4 linked regions of the Homo sapiens genome follow. The protein of the gene in region 1 purifies or fractionates together with the protein of each later gene. This does not show direct contact. Each region holds a gene or a part of one and is shown in the gene's direction. Other genes may lie near its edges.

The links. Proteins that work in one complex are often made in the same cells at the same time.
Region 2: the proteins of PROKR1 (region 1) and ACVR1B purify together in Homo sapiens (affinity purification with mass spectrometry; one large-scale study listed by BioGRID and IntAct). This does not show direct contact.
Region 3: the proteins of PROKR1 (region 1) and HEATR1 purify together in Homo sapiens (affinity purification with mass spectrometry; one large-scale study listed by BioGRID and IntAct). This does not show direct contact.
Region 4: the proteins of PROKR1 (region 1) and UCK2 purify together in Homo sapiens (affinity purification with mass spectrometry; one large-scale study listed by BioGRID and IntAct). This does not show direct contact.

Annotation. Positions count from the first base shown.
Region 1 is NC_000002.12:68,649,071-68,654,642, forward strand, and holds part of PROKR1 (prokineticin receptor 1), read left to right. Parts: intron 1-5,572. UniProt on the Homo sapiens protein: Receptor for prokineticin 1. Exclusively coupled to the G(q) subclass of heteromeric G proteins. Activation leads to mobilization of calcium, stimulation of phosphoinositide turnover and activation of p44/p42 mitogen-activated protein kinase.
Region 2 is NC_000012.12:51,953,663-51,958,198, forward strand, and holds part of ACVR1B (activin receptor type-1B isoform a precursor), read left to right. Parts: intron 1-4,536. UniProt on the Homo sapiens protein: Transmembrane serine/threonine kinase activin type-1 receptor forming an activin receptor complex with activin receptor type-2 (ACVR2A or ACVR2B).
Region 3 is NC_000001.11:236,580,517-236,585,052, reverse strand, and holds part of HEATR1 (HEAT repeat-containing protein 1), read left to right. Parts: coding exon 1-28; intron 29-1,856; coding exon 1,857-2,040; intron 2,041-2,180; coding exon 2,181-2,317; intron 2,318-3,638; coding exon 3,639-3,831; intron 3,832-4,536. UniProt on the Homo sapiens protein: Ribosome biogenesis factor; required for recruitment of Myc to nucleoli. Involved in nucleolar processing of pre-18S ribosomal RNA. Required for optimal pre-ribosomal RNA transcription by RNA polymerase I.
Region 4 is NC_000001.11:165,906,578-165,909,865, forward strand, and holds part of UCK2 (uridine-cytidine kinase 2), read left to right. Parts: intron 1-1,106; coding exon 1,107-1,246; 3' UTR 1,247-3,288. UniProt on the Homo sapiens protein: Phosphorylates uridine and cytidine to uridine monophosphate and cytidine monophosphate. Does not phosphorylate deoxyribonucleosides or purine ribonucleosides. Can use ATP or GTP as a phosphate donor.

The DNA of each region.
Region 1 (5,572 bases):
ACTAATGAACATTTCTGACACACTAACCTTTTTGCTTTCATTGAAATTATTGTTTTTATGATGTGATTTAAAAAAAATACAAGATTTTTACAAAATGCCAGAACAGAACTATTTATCATCTACCTGCTTGTATTTGTCTATATTATTGGTTCCATTGTTCTCCGAGGCATCTAACCTAGAAGAAAGTCTCCTTTGTCCTGGCTGCTCTCCCTTCTTTACCAGCATTCATTCAACCTCCAGGTCTTGGCAATACCCGTTTGTTCATTCAGGGCTGGTATCCTAGTCTCCTCTTGGTCTTCCTGCCTTCAGTGTTTCTTGGATCTGCCCATCTGTCAACGCTACTCCCCTGACAATCCATCCTAAACTTTCATTCATTCATTCATTTAAACAATCCATTTTTATAGAGTAACTGTGATGTGACAGATGCTATTGCAAGCACTGGAGATACGACAGTGAATAAGACAAAAAAAACTCCTTGCTTTCCTGGAGCTTATAACCAAAGGATGGAGAGAGATCCAGTCAGGCAAACACAAAAGGAAGGTAATTTCAGAAGCAAGAAATACTCTGAACAAAAGAAGTACACAGGTAAAATGTCGAGGGTGGCTGAGGGTGGGACCTATTCTAGGTGAGTAGTCAAGAGAAGGGTCTCCGAGGAGAGGCCTTTGAACTGGCTTCTGAATGACACAGGGGGAAAGAGCCTGCCTTGGGAAGACAGGGAGCAAGCATCCCAGACAAGGGGGATTGTAAGTGAAAAGGCCCAGAGGCAGGAACAAACCAGATGGGTTCTACAAACAGAGGAACAGAGAGAAGCCTCCATGTGGCCCGAGGGAAGTAAGCAAGGCTGCAGCCAAATTAATCTTCTGTCTTGTACGTGTCTCCACTCTCCTGCTTAAAAACAAAAAACCAAACACCGCATATTCTCACTCATAGGTGGGAATTGAACAATGAGATCACATGGACACAGGAAGGGGAATATCACACTCTGGGGACTGTTGTGGGGTGGGGGGAGGGGGGAGGGATAGCATTGGGAGATATACCTAATGCTAGATGACGAGTTAGTGGGTGCAGTGCACCAGCATGGCACATGTATACATATGTAACTAACCTGCACAATGTGCACATGTACCCTAAAACTTAAAGTATAAAAAAAAAAGACCTCTAATAACTCCATTGTCTACAAAGTATGGCTCAAACTCTTTCACCTGTTCTTCCAAACTTTTATTATCTAGCCCCAGACTGCTTCCCAGTCTCATGGTTAAACATATTTATGTCCTGTTTTCCCAAAAATAGTTGCAATCTTTCTGAGAACTGTCCCCATGGCTTTTTATATATTAAAAATAAATTTTTTTAGAGATGAGATCTTGCTATGCTGCCCAGGCTAGTCTTGAACTAGTCTCAAGTAATTATTGTGCCCCGACCTCCCAAAGTGTTGGGATTACAGGTGTGAGCCACTGTGTCCAGCCAGCTTTTTACATGTCTATTCACCCAGCGCTAGGCACTCAATGAGGGTGAAGTTGCACCAAAATCCTGTTAGGTACTCAGAATTCACAGAGAGTAAAAGGTTATAAAAGAAGTAAGACATAATCACAGCTCTTGGGGGGCTGACCATCTAGAGTTGGGGGTAGGGTGGGACCAGGGAGAACTAACACTTACAAAACAGTTAAAGAATAAGTAAAGGATAAATTTTAAATAACATTTAGAGAAGGGTGAGATCATTTTGTGCCGGAGTAGTCAGAGGAGGCTTCATGGAGGAGGTGGATTTCTAACTGTCCTTCAACAAATGAAGATCAACAAAGGAGAGGAAAGTTTTCCCAAGAGAGTGGGTAGAACAGTGTGTGGAAAAGCCTAGAGGTGGGATTGCCTGAAGTGAATTTGAGGTACTTTAGAGAGGGATGTCAGGTATGGGTAAGAAACACAAGGACAGTAGAGATCAGAAAGAATAGAATCTATTCCAGAAGGTCTCAACAGCCAGGCAGAGGGAGTCAGACCTGAGGGCAGGAGGAAAATGAGGCCAGGTGTGGTGGCTCACGCCTGTAATCCTTGCACTTTGGGAGCCCTAGGCGGGAAGATCCCTTGAGCTCAGGAGTTCAAGATCAGCCTGGGCAACATAGGTAGATCCTGTCTCTACAAAAGAAAAAAAAAATTTACCGGGCATGGTGGCATGTGCCTGTAGTCCCAGCTACTCAGGAGGCTGGGGTGGGAGGAACCCTTGGGCCCAGGAGATAGAAGCTGCAGTGAGCTGTTATCATGCCACTGCACTCCAGCCAGCCTCGGTGACAGAGCAAGATCCTGTCTTTTAAAAAGACAAAACAAAACAAAAAAGGATCATGAGAGACCTCTGCCCCAGCCACAGGTATGGGTTTCCTTTTGATGTGGAGACACTAAGATCCCACAGCGTGTGGGGGCTCCAGAGAACTTCTCTTTTACCCAGAGTCCTGAGGAAACTGGCCAGAAAAGTACCTGTGAAGAAGCTCTCTTCTTCTGTCTTGATGAAGCTAAGGCCTGAGTAATCTCACCCAACCTTAGGAAGCACAGAAACCTCCTGGTGAGCTCATTAGTCAGGGCCACTGGCCTGAGGATCAGGTTGTGTTATCTCTGCCCATCCCATGACTAGCCTAGTAGCTGCTGAGACCACTGTTACCATGATTTGATCTGGGGCTTGGTCCTGGGAACGGAGACAGAGCCCAAATACTTCTTTTCCAGCCCATTATTATCACAGTTATTGCCTGGACCATCTCTTTGTCTAGCAGCCTTTATTCCTTGTTCTCTGGGAACTGTTAGCTCTACATGAATCTGGACCTAAGCCACTGTAGTGGCAGACACACAGGGCAAGCCAAGGGCATACATATAAGCAGAGAAAAGCAGCCGCCAGATGTCAGACCCCTTCTTAGAACACCAATAGTTAGAAACCAACTGTGATGGAGAGGAAAGAGGAGAAGGGCTGCTGGGATGCCAGGAAGGCAAGAGGAGGGGGCATCATTTTGCTCTTGGATGAAAGAAGAGGGGGTAAATAGCATTCAGAGAGGCCACTGGCTTTGCAGCAAGATGTGGGTCTGAGTCATTGTTCTGTTGATATCTAGTTGTATGGCTTTTTGGCAGGTTATTTAACTTCCCCAAGCCTCAGTTTTCTCATCTATAGAGTGGACATTGTCACTGTCTTACCTATTTAGTAGGGTTGGAATTATCTAGTGAAAAAGTGGATTTGAAAATGCTCTGTAAATTGTAAACTTCTTTACAAACATAAGCAAACACAACATTACTAATGCTAGAGTTCTGGAGTTCTGGTCCTAGCATTGACAAAGCTGATGGAAATTCTTGAAATCATTTTCTGCAATTTACCTATTTGTAAATATATCAGGAAGGCCTCTTGCACAGCTCATGGCACTAATTCTGCGGATGGAGTTGGGGTGATGTCAGAGAGACCCAGAATGAAATGACTATCTGATAGGTAGTCACAGATTACCCTGAAGATTAGTTTTGATGTGTAGAGTTTATCCTATAAAATAGAAAGGAGGAGAGGACTTGCAAATTGAGTGTTTGCCAATAACAGGTAAAAGAAAATTGCTGTGTATACAGAATAGCTCTGGGAAAAAATACATTTTAAAATGCTAGTAATTCCTTGTATATTAATAGCTTACTGTTGCTATGTGCAGTGTCTCACTGGCGCCTCATAGCATCTAGGTGATATTCCCATTTTACAGATGAGGGAAGTGAACCTACAGGGATAAGAAAAATGACTCAGATTCATAGAGCAACTTTCTGGCAAAGCTGGGATTAGATTTGTGGTCTTCTGAGTCTTAGGTGGTTGTTCCTTCCCACATTTATTGAAAACACACTCTGTGTTTGAAGCATCATAAAGGCTTAGGTAGCTACTATCGGGAAAAGGAATAGAATTATGTGGTGAAAATTCTTATAGTGAATAAATATGAAATAGGAAATTTCTTTCTCAGAGTAATCAGTGGAATGTGGTGGGGTAGACAGACAGCAATGGAGCCAGTGAGAGCAGAATGTCTTAACTCTCCATTTTCATTGTGAGTCAGGGCGAGTTTGAGGCTCTGGTTACATCAGGAGCACCGCGATCTTAATGAAGGGCCCACACTCGTGCATTGACAATGGCATTGCCAACACCCTGCAGACATTTCCCTTTTTTCCCTCTGGCACTCGGGAGATTGGCTAGAGTGCCAGGGATGGCAGTCGGCCGGGCGTCCAGAGTGGGCGCAACCCATCCTACTTTATTTAACATCTGGGGCTAGAAGAGCTGGAGCCTCACTCCTGTGAACTCTCTAAAGGATGCTCAATAGGCTTGACTGCCCAGGCTGTGGGGGAGGGACAGAAAGAGCAGAAATACAGTCAGGAAAAAAAAAAATAAGTAAGAATGAACCTTTCTTCAAATCAAAATTCCAAGGAAGATAACTTCATAGGGATTGGTTTCAAAGGAAACAACCGGTTTGGCTTTCCTTCAGGCCCCCTTCACGTTTGCTCTGGGCTCTACCTGGAATAAGTTCTGGACACGTGAGACTGTGTTTGTTTCCACTGTTGACCAGTCAATCCCCTCCCACTTCACTCCCCATCTCTCTCCTTCCCCAACTTCCACCCTCTGCCAGCCACGGGACGTCTTCCAGGAAACCGGAGCTCTCTGCATAAGCTGTGTGCGTTCTCTCTCGGAAAGAGGCTATCAGCTCTCATGCCGCACAATGACTCATTTCCCCCCTAGAAAGTGCTCTCTCTTTGTGTTCCTGGACCACTGTGGTAACAGCAATGTGGGTTTTTTTTTGAAAGGACAAAAGCAGTATCTTTTTACTGTCTGGTGCTTTGCGGTTAGAAAAAAAAATACATTCACGTATATTCTCAATTGATTTTCACATCAATCCTGTGAGGTAGGGTTAAATGTTTTCTATCAAGGAAGGGTCCTGTGGTCTGTGACCTTGAGAAAGTCACTCATCTCTCACTGCCTTCCATTTTTCCACCTGAAAATGACACACATGGCCACATGCTTTTCCTCCTCCTTTGCATGCAAAGCAACAATTTTTAGAATGTAGAATGAAGAAAAACCTTTGCCCACTGTTTCCATTGGAAAGGGCAGATTCTCCCAACTCTTTGAATTATCTTGCCCTTTTAGCTCTAAACTGAGAGGTAATTAGAATGAACAGCCCAAGAACAGGAAGGAGCTGGGAACAGTGCCAGGCTAGAAACCGATGGGAGGAATTATTATATTTAATACTAATTGTTATCATTTTGAGTACCTATTAGGCTTAAAACTGTGCCAGGCATAGTGCATACATTATCACATTTAATATTTAACAGCCAACAATACTTGTGCAGATAAGGAAACTAAGGGTCAGAGCATCAACAAAACTTGGCTGAGGTTGCATAGCTAATTAGAGATGACATTGGGGTTTGCTTCAAGTTGACCTTTTGCAGAAGCCCACGTACCATTGGGAGTTTCCTCCACACATACCATTTTGTTGCTCCTTAGAATGCTGCAAAATGAAATAGCAGGTTTGCTTGAGCCCAGGAGTTTGAGACTAGCCTGGGCAGCATACGGAGACTCTACCTCTACAAAAAATAAAAA
Region 2 (4,536 bases), on another chromosome or scaffold:
AATCCTCATATAGGAATTTTTATCCTGCCCCTAATATATCCAGGATTTTTAACAGTCATTTCCCTGCTGATTTGATGTAGTGTTTGTGGGGTTTTTCTGGTTGTGAGCCTAGTTAAGAATGTTTGATAATCCAAGTGGTTCTGAATGGGGCAGAGTTCATTTTTTTGTAACCTTCCTAAAATGGATGTTTGTGGGGGTTAAGGTGGGTGAGTAAAATAGGGAGTTCGTTTCTTTTTTTGGTAAATTGGAAATTAGGTTGTGTGTCCAGCAAACATTCTCCAGGGCCTTTAAACTTCTTGGCCAGACACTACAGTTTTTTCCAGGACACGTCTAGTTGCCAATAGTGTATGCTATGGAGACCACTGCTGCAAAGGGCTTAAAGTAAAACGTCAGTTCTGGGAAAATAGAGGCTGTGGGATAACAAGAAGTTGATTTTTTTCCCCTCCCCTGCATTTCCTATATAGTGCTCCCCTACGTGGGCTGGAGGAGTGACAGAGCCAGACAGCTCTGATGCCTGATACTTGGACTTGATGTGAGGGGCAGTAAGGGATAGGTGTTTCTATTAATTAATGAATTAACTAGGACTTAGTAAAAGGCCAGTGATAAGGAGAATGAGTTTCAGTTAGAAATAGCATCCGTTTGATAGGTGTACATGTTTTAAGGCCTGGCTTTGGAATTTTCACATTTAAAAATGTAAAATTGAGTTAGTAGCAGGAGAACATGACATTCATTTCTCAAGACAAAAGCAACAAGAGAGATATTTGACATTCTCATAGGAACATTTTGAAATTTTGTGAGCGGACTAAAAATCTAATTTCAAGCCAAGCCTTGTAATTTTGTTGAGTGGACATGGATTTTAAGTACAGTGGAAGTGCAGTCTTGTAGAGACCTCTGATTAGTTTTGTTTAAACAGCTCCTGGAACAGATGTGATAAAACATATTAAAATGGCTACTCTGGTTAAAGGTTAAAGCCAGATGGAGGGAGGAGGCTGGTTTTCAGCCCTAGAACTTAGCTGCCTTACAAGTTGTCCTTGAACAAGTAACTTAACCTTTCTGTGACTGCCTCAGTTTTCCCTCTGTAAAAATAAGGAAATATTTTGTGTCACTCTTATTGGGACATTTGTGAGACTGACTTACTGATAGCCAGTTGGCGGGGAGGTATTTTTAGACACAGTTTCTGACTTCAGTGAATAAGCAATGCTGGGTTACTTTTTTATCTTAAGGAGCAGAAAAACATACTCTGTGATTGATAGACGTACAGCATGTCACAGTGTGGTTTTCTTTTTGTGCTTTTTTGTAGACCCCTTTCAGATTTCCTCAAGTTAATTTCTGTCTCTGGCAGGCTCTTACATCGTCGACTAGGCAGCATACCTGTGCTAATCAAAGACAGTCTGGAGGGAGTGACCTGCTTTAGGCTTTATTGGTTTGGCAACGTTTTAATTCTTACGCAACTCTGGGTATGTTTATGGCACTATGTAAATGTTACATAAGAACATGGAGGCTGAGAAGTGGCCAGAATGGTGACTGTGAACACAGGAAGGTTAGACTGAGGACTTTATCCAAAAGGACCTTGGGAATCTGCAATCAGTACAGGAAGAACCTGCACTTATTTTCCTCTAAGAACCTTTTTAGATGATTATGTCTTTCAGGTGGACTGCTGTGTTATAAATAGGTTTATTCTCCACCGGTGAGCTAATTGTAACCTTGCTACCAAAATATGAATCAGTAAACGATGAGACGTGCTGCTTCTTCCAGCATGTCCTGTTGAAGCTGCTTGTTGCATTTTGGAACATGAGTTGAATTGGGTTGCAGTCTGTTCTCATAATAGCTGAGGAGCACAGGGTGTTGAGGTGGAATGGAATTATCAGTTCGTGGTGCTTTAGGTCATCTTAATTTTTGAAGGTTAAATTAGAATACTGAAGTGGCTCTTTATAATTTTGAAATCTCTATTGTTTACTGTTCAATTTTTGCTCAGAGTAGCAGTGAACATTAATTCTGGGATCTCGCCTGTTTGTCTTCAGTTCTTGTGTTAGCTGTTGTTGTAGGAGTTGGTGTAAGAGGGTCTTAATCTCATTTTCCTCTCTGTATTCATAAAAAGGGAATCCTAGAGTCCTTTCTCACCAGTGCTTCTGATGCTGGACATAACTGCAGGCAGCCACAGCCCATCAGTTCCACTTGGACTGGGAATGCGGGAACCTTTTAAGTCCAACTTACATTTCTCTCACTCTGCAGGCACTGCCTCATGGCCAGGTTCAGATACCTGCTCTGAGTTTCTGTTCTCAGTTTTTCACTCTCATGCAGGTTTAACTTGAGCTTTGGCTTCAGAGGCACCATTTCTGTCCATGTCTGCTCTCTCTCCTCTGTTATGGAGAAATGGTGTGCTAAGCAAAAATATGATTTCAGAGAGTATCTTTCTTTCCTTTACTCTGTAGAGTTGCCATACTTTGGTTTAGCTGTGAAGTTTCCATCCCAGGCAATCTTTATCTGCTCTCTAGGGTTCAGAGACAGTGCCACTTTAGGCAACTCTGGGCTTTTTGGTTTTCTTTAGTGTCCACCCAGTCTTAAGCCTGCATTTGTCTCCCTAAATATTTTGAATTTAGCATAATGAAAGTAACTGCCTTTCCCTTTAAACCATAACATCACACCTAATATTTACACAGTTAACATATAGGAGATTTCTTTATTCATTGGATTGGGTATGTGCCTGGAACAGTTTTTGGCATGGGGAAATAACAGAGAACAAGATGAACAAAAGTCCCTAAATCTCTATTATGGAACTTATAATTGCAATGGCTTAGACTGAAAATAAATAAGTAAACACAATTATCAGTCCATGAGTGCTGTGAAGAAAATAAAACAGGATGCTGTGCCATAGTGTGCCTGGAGCTGCCACTTCACCTCTCTATCAGCTTCATTGTTTTATCTGTAAAATGGGGCTAATACAGTCTTGTTATTTGTGGTAGTTCCATAAAGTTGAATTGTAGAACTGAATTACCAAATCTTCAACCATTGCTCCTAGGGGAAATACAGGGCTAGGTTCCTGCGAGCCTCTGGTCACTTTTTCAACCTGTCAATACATAACCTTATTTTATGTGTTTCTTTTTTTTTCTTTTTTTGAGACAGGGTCTTGCTCTGTTGCCCAGGTTAGAGTCCAGTGACATGATCTCACTCACTGCAGTTTCTGCCTCCCAGGCTCAAGCAATCCTCCCACCTCAGCCTCCTGAGTAGCTGAGACCTCAGGTGTACACCACCACACCTGGCTAATTTTTGTATTTATTTACTTTTTGGTAGAGACAGGGTTTCGACATGTTGCCCAGGCTGGTCTTGAACTCCTGGGCTCAAGCAATCCACTCACCTGGGCTTCACCTGCTGAGATTACGGGTATGAGCCACTGAACCTGGCCTGTTTCATGTGTTTCTGTTTATTTTTATTTTTAATTTTTATTTTTTTGAGACAGTGTCCTGCTCTGTCACCCAGGCTGTATAGTACGAGAGTGTATCATAGGCCAGGCACAGTGGCTCACGCCTGTAATGCCAGCACTTTGGGAGGCCGAGGCAGGTGGATCATGAGGTCAGGAGTTCGAGACCAGCCTGACAAACATGCTGAAACCCCGTCTCTATTAAAAATACAAAAATTAGCCAGGTGTGGTGGTGTGCCTGTAATCCCAGCTACTCAGGAGGCTGAGGCAGGAGAATCACTTGAACCTGGGAGGCAGAGGTTGCAGTGAGCGGAGACTGCGCCACTGCACTCCAGCCTAGGCAACGGAGTGAGACTCCGTCAAAAAAAAAAAAAAAAAAAGCCAAAAACATCATAGCTCACTGCAGCCTGAAACTCCTGGGCTCAAGGAATCCTCCTTTGTCAGCCTCCCAAGTGGCTAGGATCACACGCACATGCCACCATACCCGGCTAATGTTTAAATTTTTTGTAGAGATGGGGTCTCACTTGTTGCCCAGGCTGGTCTCAAATTCCTGGGCTCAAATTATCCTCCTGCCTTGGCCTCCCAAAGGGCTGGGATTACAGGCCTGAGCTACCATGCCTGGCTTTGTTTCTGTTTAAAGACACCTTATTTAATATATATTGTTGGTTCATTAACATTGAACTTTACTGACAGCAGCACTATTAACTCATGCCTGAACTAAGCTTCTCTAACATGTATTTTCTCTGTGAGGCATATCACTATCTTCTTGCACTTAGGAACTCTAGACAGCACTTCAGCACTACTTGTGGGGGACCATTTTATACAGCAAAATCATCAATGAAAAGCATGACACTAAATATACTGCAGAAAGGATAACTTGTTTACAGTATGCCAGCTGAAACAAGAAGGCAGGGTGTTGCCTTGTTTGACCTCAGTTGGGAATGCATGTGGTGGGTGTTTCAGATGTTTCACTATTCTGTGCATGGCTGTCAGTGAGCAGGAAGGTACCATGAATGTTGATATTGGGGTTACAAATAAATTTGCATTAACCATATTTTGTTAGAACTGTATACAAAAGTGGTAGAAATAAAATTGTAGAATTTCACTAAACCAGAATT
Region 3 (4,536 bases), on another chromosome or scaffold:
GAAGCTTGAAAGTGTCATTACTGCAGTGGTAAGGAAAGCAGAATCTCCAGAAAGTGGGATGTTGAATAAAACAACAGCCTGGCCTATTAGTCACAGCAAAACTGAAAATCAGAGGCGAGATGTTGAGTCTGTGGATAGTAGCTGGATGAAATGTGAAGCAGTCTTGGGTAGCAGTGAGATAGTCAACTAGGCACTCCCTTGCTTTTGCGGAAAGTTTAGTTGAATTATAAAATTTTAGGGTTGCAATATTTTGTATCTGATGCCTGACTCTCCTCTCTTTTATTGTCTTTATTGGATAATTACCCAAGCTACACCTAACTACCTCTAGCGATGAAGAATTCACTTGGTGTGTTAGTGCTTGAACAAAATACTATTTCATTCAATTGTTTACTAAAAATAGATCTTTTAGGCTTTAAATAATTTTAATATTACATAGATGTGTATCCCTCCAGCCTACTACTGTCTTTCATAGTATTACTAAAGGACATGTTTCAGCTGTTTACATTTGACATGTTTTGAGGTAGCAAGACTTTTTTTTTAATATCTGCTATATGTAAGGATTTTGTTTTTATTTGTCCTCCAAATTTTAGAGGGCTTCTCATTATAGGATTTACTAAATGAATTATATCTTTTTCACATTTACGTATACCCGCAGGATTTTATAAGTTCTGATCATGGCCATTGTTAGCTAAAATGTGTAAACTTTAAAAAGAGTAAAATCTTCATATTTTGAAAAATAGTCCAGATAGGCCCTTCTTAACTTTTAGTTTCTTGGTGTCTTTTGTGAAGTATGATGACCTGAACTATACTGGTTCTCAGTGTTAAAAGTATGGACAAATAGAGTGTTTTATTATACATATGTAGATAACAGGTTATTTTATATTGCTTTACTTTTAATACCTTTCTCGAGGTCATGAGCATGTTTTCGCCTGTAGCAGCACGTTGAGTTAATCAAATCCCTCACTGGAGACGTTACATTGTAAATCTGGCTTTGGATTATTTTCCTTCTAAGTTATTACTCTGTACTGCTTGTACAGAGTCATATTTGTCATTTTCTTACACCTGTTCTGCATTCTTTTGGCACTTACAGTATAATTTCTAAACACCTAACATTTTGCTGCTTGTTTAAAATCATCTGCAGGTTTGGAGATTTTTGCCATGTACCTTATTCAGATTAGTGGTAAAACAGTGAAATCAAAGAATTCCCTTTAACTATGTCTTGGCAATCCAACTGTTTATCTTCCTGTTTTGAAATATACCTATTTTGGCCAGGCACGGTAGCTCACGCCTATAATCCCAGCATTTTGGGAGGCCGAGGCGGGTGGATCATCTGAGGACAGGAGTTCGAGACCAACCTGGCCAAAATGGTGAAACCTAATCTCTACTAAAGATACAAAAATTAGCCAGGCATGATGGCGGGCACCTGTAATCCTTCCTACTCGGGAGGCTGAAGCAGTAGAATTGCTTGAACCTGGGAAGCGGAGGTTGCAGTGAGCTGAGATTGTGCCGCTGCACTCCAGCCTGGGTGACAGAGCAAGACTCCGTCTCAAAAAAAAAAAAAAAAAAAAGAAATATGCCTATTTATTCCTACCCTTTATTGGATAAACAGTTCATATGAATAAAGTTTGTTTTTAGAGATAATGTTTCAAGGTAAGACATAGATAAAATTTAACTTTGTCTTTCCTTGTGAATAGTGATAAACCTCTTTAAAAATCCGACCAAAGCAGTTCTGTTAATCCTTTCCCCACCAAAATGCACACATAAACAAAACTTTTGCATATTATGCAGAGGAATTCATATAACCCATGTTCAGAACCCTTAGTTTGTACTAGTTTTTGTTTCCTTTAACATTTCAGGAAATCCCCTCAGAATGGCACATTGAACTGATGTTAGACAGAGGGATCCCAGTGGAGCTGTGGGCACATTATGTAGAAGAGCTCAACAGCACTCAGAGGGTGGCCGTGGAGGACTCGGTTTTTCTTGTATTTTCCTTGAAAAAATTTATTTATGCACTGAAAGCTCCTAAATCTTTTCCTAAAGGTAAGATACAAGCTGTGAATCTTTTAAATGTGATACTCTGCAAAACTGAATGATTGACTCCACAATGACTGTCTTGAATAAAAAGCTCCCAGCATGTTCATGTAGGATCTAGCATCATTTCTCTTTCCATGTCCTTGTAGGTGATATATGGTGGAATCCTGAACAACTGAAAGAAGACAGCAGGGACTATCTGCACTTGCTCATTGGGCTGTTTGAGATGATGCTCAATGGTGCCGATGCTGTTCATTTCAGAGTTCTGATGAAACTTTTCATAAAGGTACAAGCCTCCTCCTTTTCAGGCGTACTCTACCCTTAAAGAAGATATGGCTGGCCTGCAATCCCAGCACTTTGGGAGGCCGAGGCAGGCGGATCACTTGAGGTCAGGAGTTCAATACCAGCCTGGCCAACATAGTGAAACTCCATTTCTACTAAAAATACAAAAATTAGCCAGGCATGGTGATGGGGCCTGTAATCCCAGCCACTTGGGAGGCAGAGGCAGGAGAATTCGCTTGAACCCGGGAGGCAGAGGTTGCAGTGAGCCGAGATCACACCACCGTACTCCAGCCTGGGTGACAAGAGTGAGACTCTGTCTCAAAAAAAAAAGATGGGCTGGGCGCAGTAGCTCACGCCTATAATCCGAGCACTTTGGGAGGCCAAGGTGGGTGGATCACGAGGTCAGGAGATCGAGACCATCCTGGCTAACATGGTGAAACGCCGTCTCTACGAAAAATACAAAAAAAATTAGCCGGGTGTGGTGGCGGGCTCCTGAAGTCCCAGCTACTCGGGAGGCTGAGGCAGGAGAATGGCATGAACCTGGGAGGTGGAGCTTGCAGTGAGCGGAGATCGCTCCACTGCACTCCAGCCTGGGCGACAGAGCGAGACTCCATCTCAAAAAAAATAATAAATAAATAAAAAGATACTGTGGGTTATTTGGGTTATGACAGTTTATAATGTAAACAAAAGTAGACTTGTAAACAGTGAAGAGTATATAATAGCACGGGCCCTGTAAAAGAGTACAATCACAATACTAATCGGTAGGTTGAATAGAAACTAACATTGCTACACTCCTACTAATATGTTAGGCCCATTACTATATTTAAAAATAACAACAGCCCAGTCTTTTTGATTGGTTAATACCATTTAAAAATGTGAATACTGGTGTTCAGAGAGGTTATTTAGCACACGTGAAGTTACTCAGGAAATTTCATCCCCAGCACCAGTGACCTCCATGTTGCCAGGCCCAGTGGTCAGTTCCTGTTCTTGCCTGACTTGTTCTCTCTACAGCATTTGACATGGAGTTGGCATTGCTCAGCACATTGTTGAAGTATTTTCTTAATTAGGCGTCCCAGATACTGCTCTTGTCTTGGTTCTGTGTTTTCAAGTGCAAGGTTATAGTGAGGCTTCTGAATATCACTCTTCATTGACATCTTCCCAGTTCATTAAAACATGGAATATGGAATAATTTGAAATGATTAGACAAAGCAAAACTTTGCCTTAAATTATTTGTTTCTTTATAATTGTACACTAGTGAGAAGAGGATTTGGAACCAGCTTATTTGAGTAAGAATTAAAAGTTTGCTTTTTTTTTTTTTTAATTAGGTGCATCTAGAAGATGTTTTTCAGTTATTCAAGTTCTGTTCTGTTTTATGGACCTATGGTTCTAGCCTTTCAAATCCACTAAACTGCAGTGTGAAAACAGTGCTGCAGACTCAAGCTCTTTATGTGGGCTGTGCAATGCTTTCTTCTCAGAAGACACAGTGTAAACACCAACTGGCATCCATATCTTCTCCAGGTATTAAAAGTAGCATTGTTATGTTTTGTCATGACCAACTGTTCATGCTTTCTCTATATGGTTTATGTAGTTTGGAAAATTATAACTTAAAAAAAAATAGCAGAGGGCAGGCGCGGTATCTCACGCCTGTAATCCCAGCACTTTGGGAGGCCGAAGCAGGCAGATCATGAGGTCAGGAGATCAAGACCATCCTGGGCAACATGGTGAAACCCCGTCTCTACTAAAAATACAAAAATTAGCTGGGCGTGGTGGCATGTGCCTGTAATCCCAGCTACTTGGGAGGCTGAGGCTGGAGAATTGCTTGAACCAGGGAGTTGGAGGTTGCAGTGAGCCGAGATTGTGCCACTGCACTCCAGCCTGGTGACACAGCGAGACTCCATCTCAAAAAAAAAAAAAATCGATAAAGGCCAGGCGAGGTGGCTTACACCTATAGTCTCAGCACTTTGGGAGGCTAAGGCAGGAGGATCACTTGAGGCCAAGAGTTCAAGACCAGCTTGGACAACGTGATGAGATCCTGCCTCTACAAAAAATACAAAAATTAGCTGGGCGTGATGGTGCGTGCCTGTAGTCCCAGCTACTCAGTTGCCTGAGGTAGGCAGATGGCTTGTGCCTGGGAGGTCAAGGCTGCAGTGAGCTGTGATTGCACCACTGCACTCCAAACTGGGCAACAGAGCAAGACCCTGTCTCAAAAAAAAAAAAAAAGGG
Region 4 (3,288 bases), on another chromosome or scaffold:
AAGCTGGTCTAAAACTCCTACCTCAAGCGACCCTTCCATCTCAGCCTCCCAAAGTGTTAGGATTACAGGCGTGAGCCATAGCACCTGGCCCCATTGTTTTATTTATTTTTTTGGCCTGTCTAGGAAGTATGAATGTCTCTGGACTAGGCGTAGTGTGGCAGAGTTGATCTGTAAAATAGGACCTGGTTTCTTCATTCTCTTTAGAATTTATTTAATTTTCCCTCCATTTAAAAAGATTATTTCTTGAGCTGTTTGGGAGTAAGTTATAGCAATAAATATTTAACCCTGTATTTTTTAAGAACAAAGGCATTCTTATTCATCAGCAGAATGCAGTCATTAAATTCAAGACATTTACCATTGATATGACCTCTTTTAACCTGGAGATGTTCCCTATCTTTTGTTTTTTAAGACATTTTTGAGGCGTACAGGCCCATTGTTTGGTAGAATGGTCCTCAATTTGGGTTTGTCTTTTATTTTCTTATGATTGGTTTCATGAGCTTATACAGTCTGAAGGAATTATCCCAGGAGAGATGTGGCGTGGTCCTCTTTGTGTATCACATCAGAAAGCATTTGATGTGTATTCCATTTTTGGTGATGTTAAATTGACCTCTTGGTTGAGGTATATAATTTATTTCTAATGCTAATAAAAGATAGCTCTCTGCATTATATTTTTTGGAGGGAAAGAGGGCCTTCCATAGGGATGCTCTGTCTTAGGATGGAAAACTGGAAGGTTCCCTGGTGGAAAGGTCTCATAGCTAATTGACGTGTCAGAACCATGGCTGGTTACCACGTCTGCAGACTTTGGCCCGAGTGCTTCATCCAGTGGTGACTGATCATCTCCTGATAAGAAGCCCATTCATTAAGGGCTTACTCTGTGGTAGGCATTGTCTATCTTACTCCTTAGAGCCCTCCTGTGAAGGAGGAGGATCATATTAGCTCAGGCAGAGCCACTGGGAAGTTGGATGACTTGCCTGCAAGTGGCAGAGCCACTTCCCTGGAAGTCTTTCTACTGTGGTTCCTGCATGCCCTTCCCCCAGACAGACTCCCACACTCACCCCTGCACCCATGCCTGCACCCGTAACGCTCTGCTGGTCTCTGCCCCACAGTGGCCATCAACCTCATCGTGCAGCACATCCAGGACATCCTGAATGGAGGGCCCTCCAAACGGCAGACCAATGGCTGTCTCAACGGCTACACCCCTTCACGCAAGAGGCAGGCATCGGAGTCCAGCAGCAGGCCGCATTGACCCGTCTCCATCGGACCCCAGCCCCTATCTCCAAGAGACAGAGGAGGGGTCAGGAGGCACTGCTCATCTGTACATACTGTTTCCTATGACATTACTGTATTTAAGAAAACACCATGGAGATGAAATGCCTTTGATTTTTTTTTTCTTTTTGTACTTTGGAACGACAAAATGAAACAGAACTTGACCCTGAGCTTAAATAACAAAACTGTGCCAACTACTACTGGTGATGCCTAATTATGAATCCAACGTGTAACCAGTTATAAATACATATATATATAAAAAAGGATCTATTTTTGTGTAAATGTACAAATACTGTAAAGCTGTTTGCCATAAGTATTTTGCAGGAGGGTCTGTACTTGAGTGTTTTAGGACTGGAGCTGGAATTTCACCAAGGGGAAATTGCCTGTTGTGTCCCAGGGTGGGGAGGCTCGGGCATCTGTGAGAGACAGGGAGGGTGGCTAAGGTCCAGTTGCTTTTGAGTGCCCCGTGGAACTTGATGGGAATGGGGTTGGAAAACCTTGATTGCCTCCTCTGTCACATGCCACTCTTGGAGCTGGAGCTTAGTGATATGTCAATGAGAGATACTCTTGTCTTTTTTTTTTTTCTTTTCTTTTTTTTTTTTGAGTTGAAATTAGGTAAAATCTCAACTCAAAAATCAAACTCAGGGAAGAGGCCCACTGAGGAGAACAAGTCTTCTGCATTTTCTTCCTGCCCTGCTCCCACCTTCTCGCCTCTGGCTGCTTGGATAGCTTGGTGACTCCTTCCTCACCCTCCTGCTTCTCTGTCTCTCCAAGAAGCCAGAGCTGCCTCTTTCCTTCCCTGGAAGAGATTTTATGGGATCGCTTCCTGATAGAAGATGGGAAGGAGAGGGCAGAACTTTGCCTGCTGTCATATCTGAAGAATCACTGGTTCTTTCTGCATCCCAGGGGCGTAACTGATCTGACTCCTTGGGCTTTTTCCTGTATTGTGGAATATAGAGTGGACCATTGCAGGCTGGGTGTGGGTGAGGGCTTCGGTAACTGATGCCGGCAGCAGCGCCTCATGGAGTGGCAGGGGAGCTCTGTCTGTGGAGGGGTAGTAGTTTCCGCTTCCTGGAGGTTTGCAGTGAGGTGAGGAGAGTAACTTTGGTCAGGGATTCTCACTAGCAGCGTCATGGCCAGGATGCTTTACTTATTTGCAATACCACCTAGTGGATATGGCAACTGCAGAGCATAAAAGGGGCTCGGAAAAGCAGTTTTTACAAAGTATTTAAAAGGAGAGTATTTAAATCATAGGTACCTAAGTTGGAGCCTGAGGTTGAAATATTTGGGGTGGAGATTTCTAGCTTTCCTGAGAGCTGCTGCTTGGTGGTAGTGTTTTCTCTGGAAGTACAGATTCCTGACATTCTGGGTGGAGGGGAGCCCAAGTGAGCCTGAAGGAGTTCTGATTATAGAGTCCCGAGCCTCAGTTTCTGACTGCAGAAGAGCCAGAGATGTTCATTTCATTGTTGACCACCCTAGTGCTTGGTGGACTGTGCCCTTAGCTATCCCACTGTGGCTGCCATTGCCAGAAACATTTTGGAGAACCTTTTCTTCCCATTGCTCTCAGAGCCTGTTCGAGCCATTCAGGTAAATTGGTCTCCATTATTACCTGGTCACACCAGATTTTCCCCCAGACTCAGCACCATCCAGTCTGATTCCCCGTTTCTGGGCTCAGTTTGACTCTAAATCTGTTTTGCTATTTTAAAAAGTCAAACCTGGTCCCCAGCAGAGCTTGCCACCCGGAGACTTTCAGGAGACCGTGCAGGCTCTGAAGGGAGCTCCCAGTCACAGCAGCCGCCTACTTGGAGCAAGGGAAGGCTCCCAAGATGCCTCCTTTGAAAGCCGGTGCTCACCAAGATCAGTTCAGGATCAATCATTATCCTTGTAGTCATGCCTTGATCAGTTCTGAGATGAAGCAGGGAATGCAGGCCTGGGTTAGTATCCTGAGGACACAGGGCCCCTGGCCTTGATGGCACTGGGCTGTGCTCAGGTGAAGCCCACCCGTGTCTGGGAGAGCCTTGG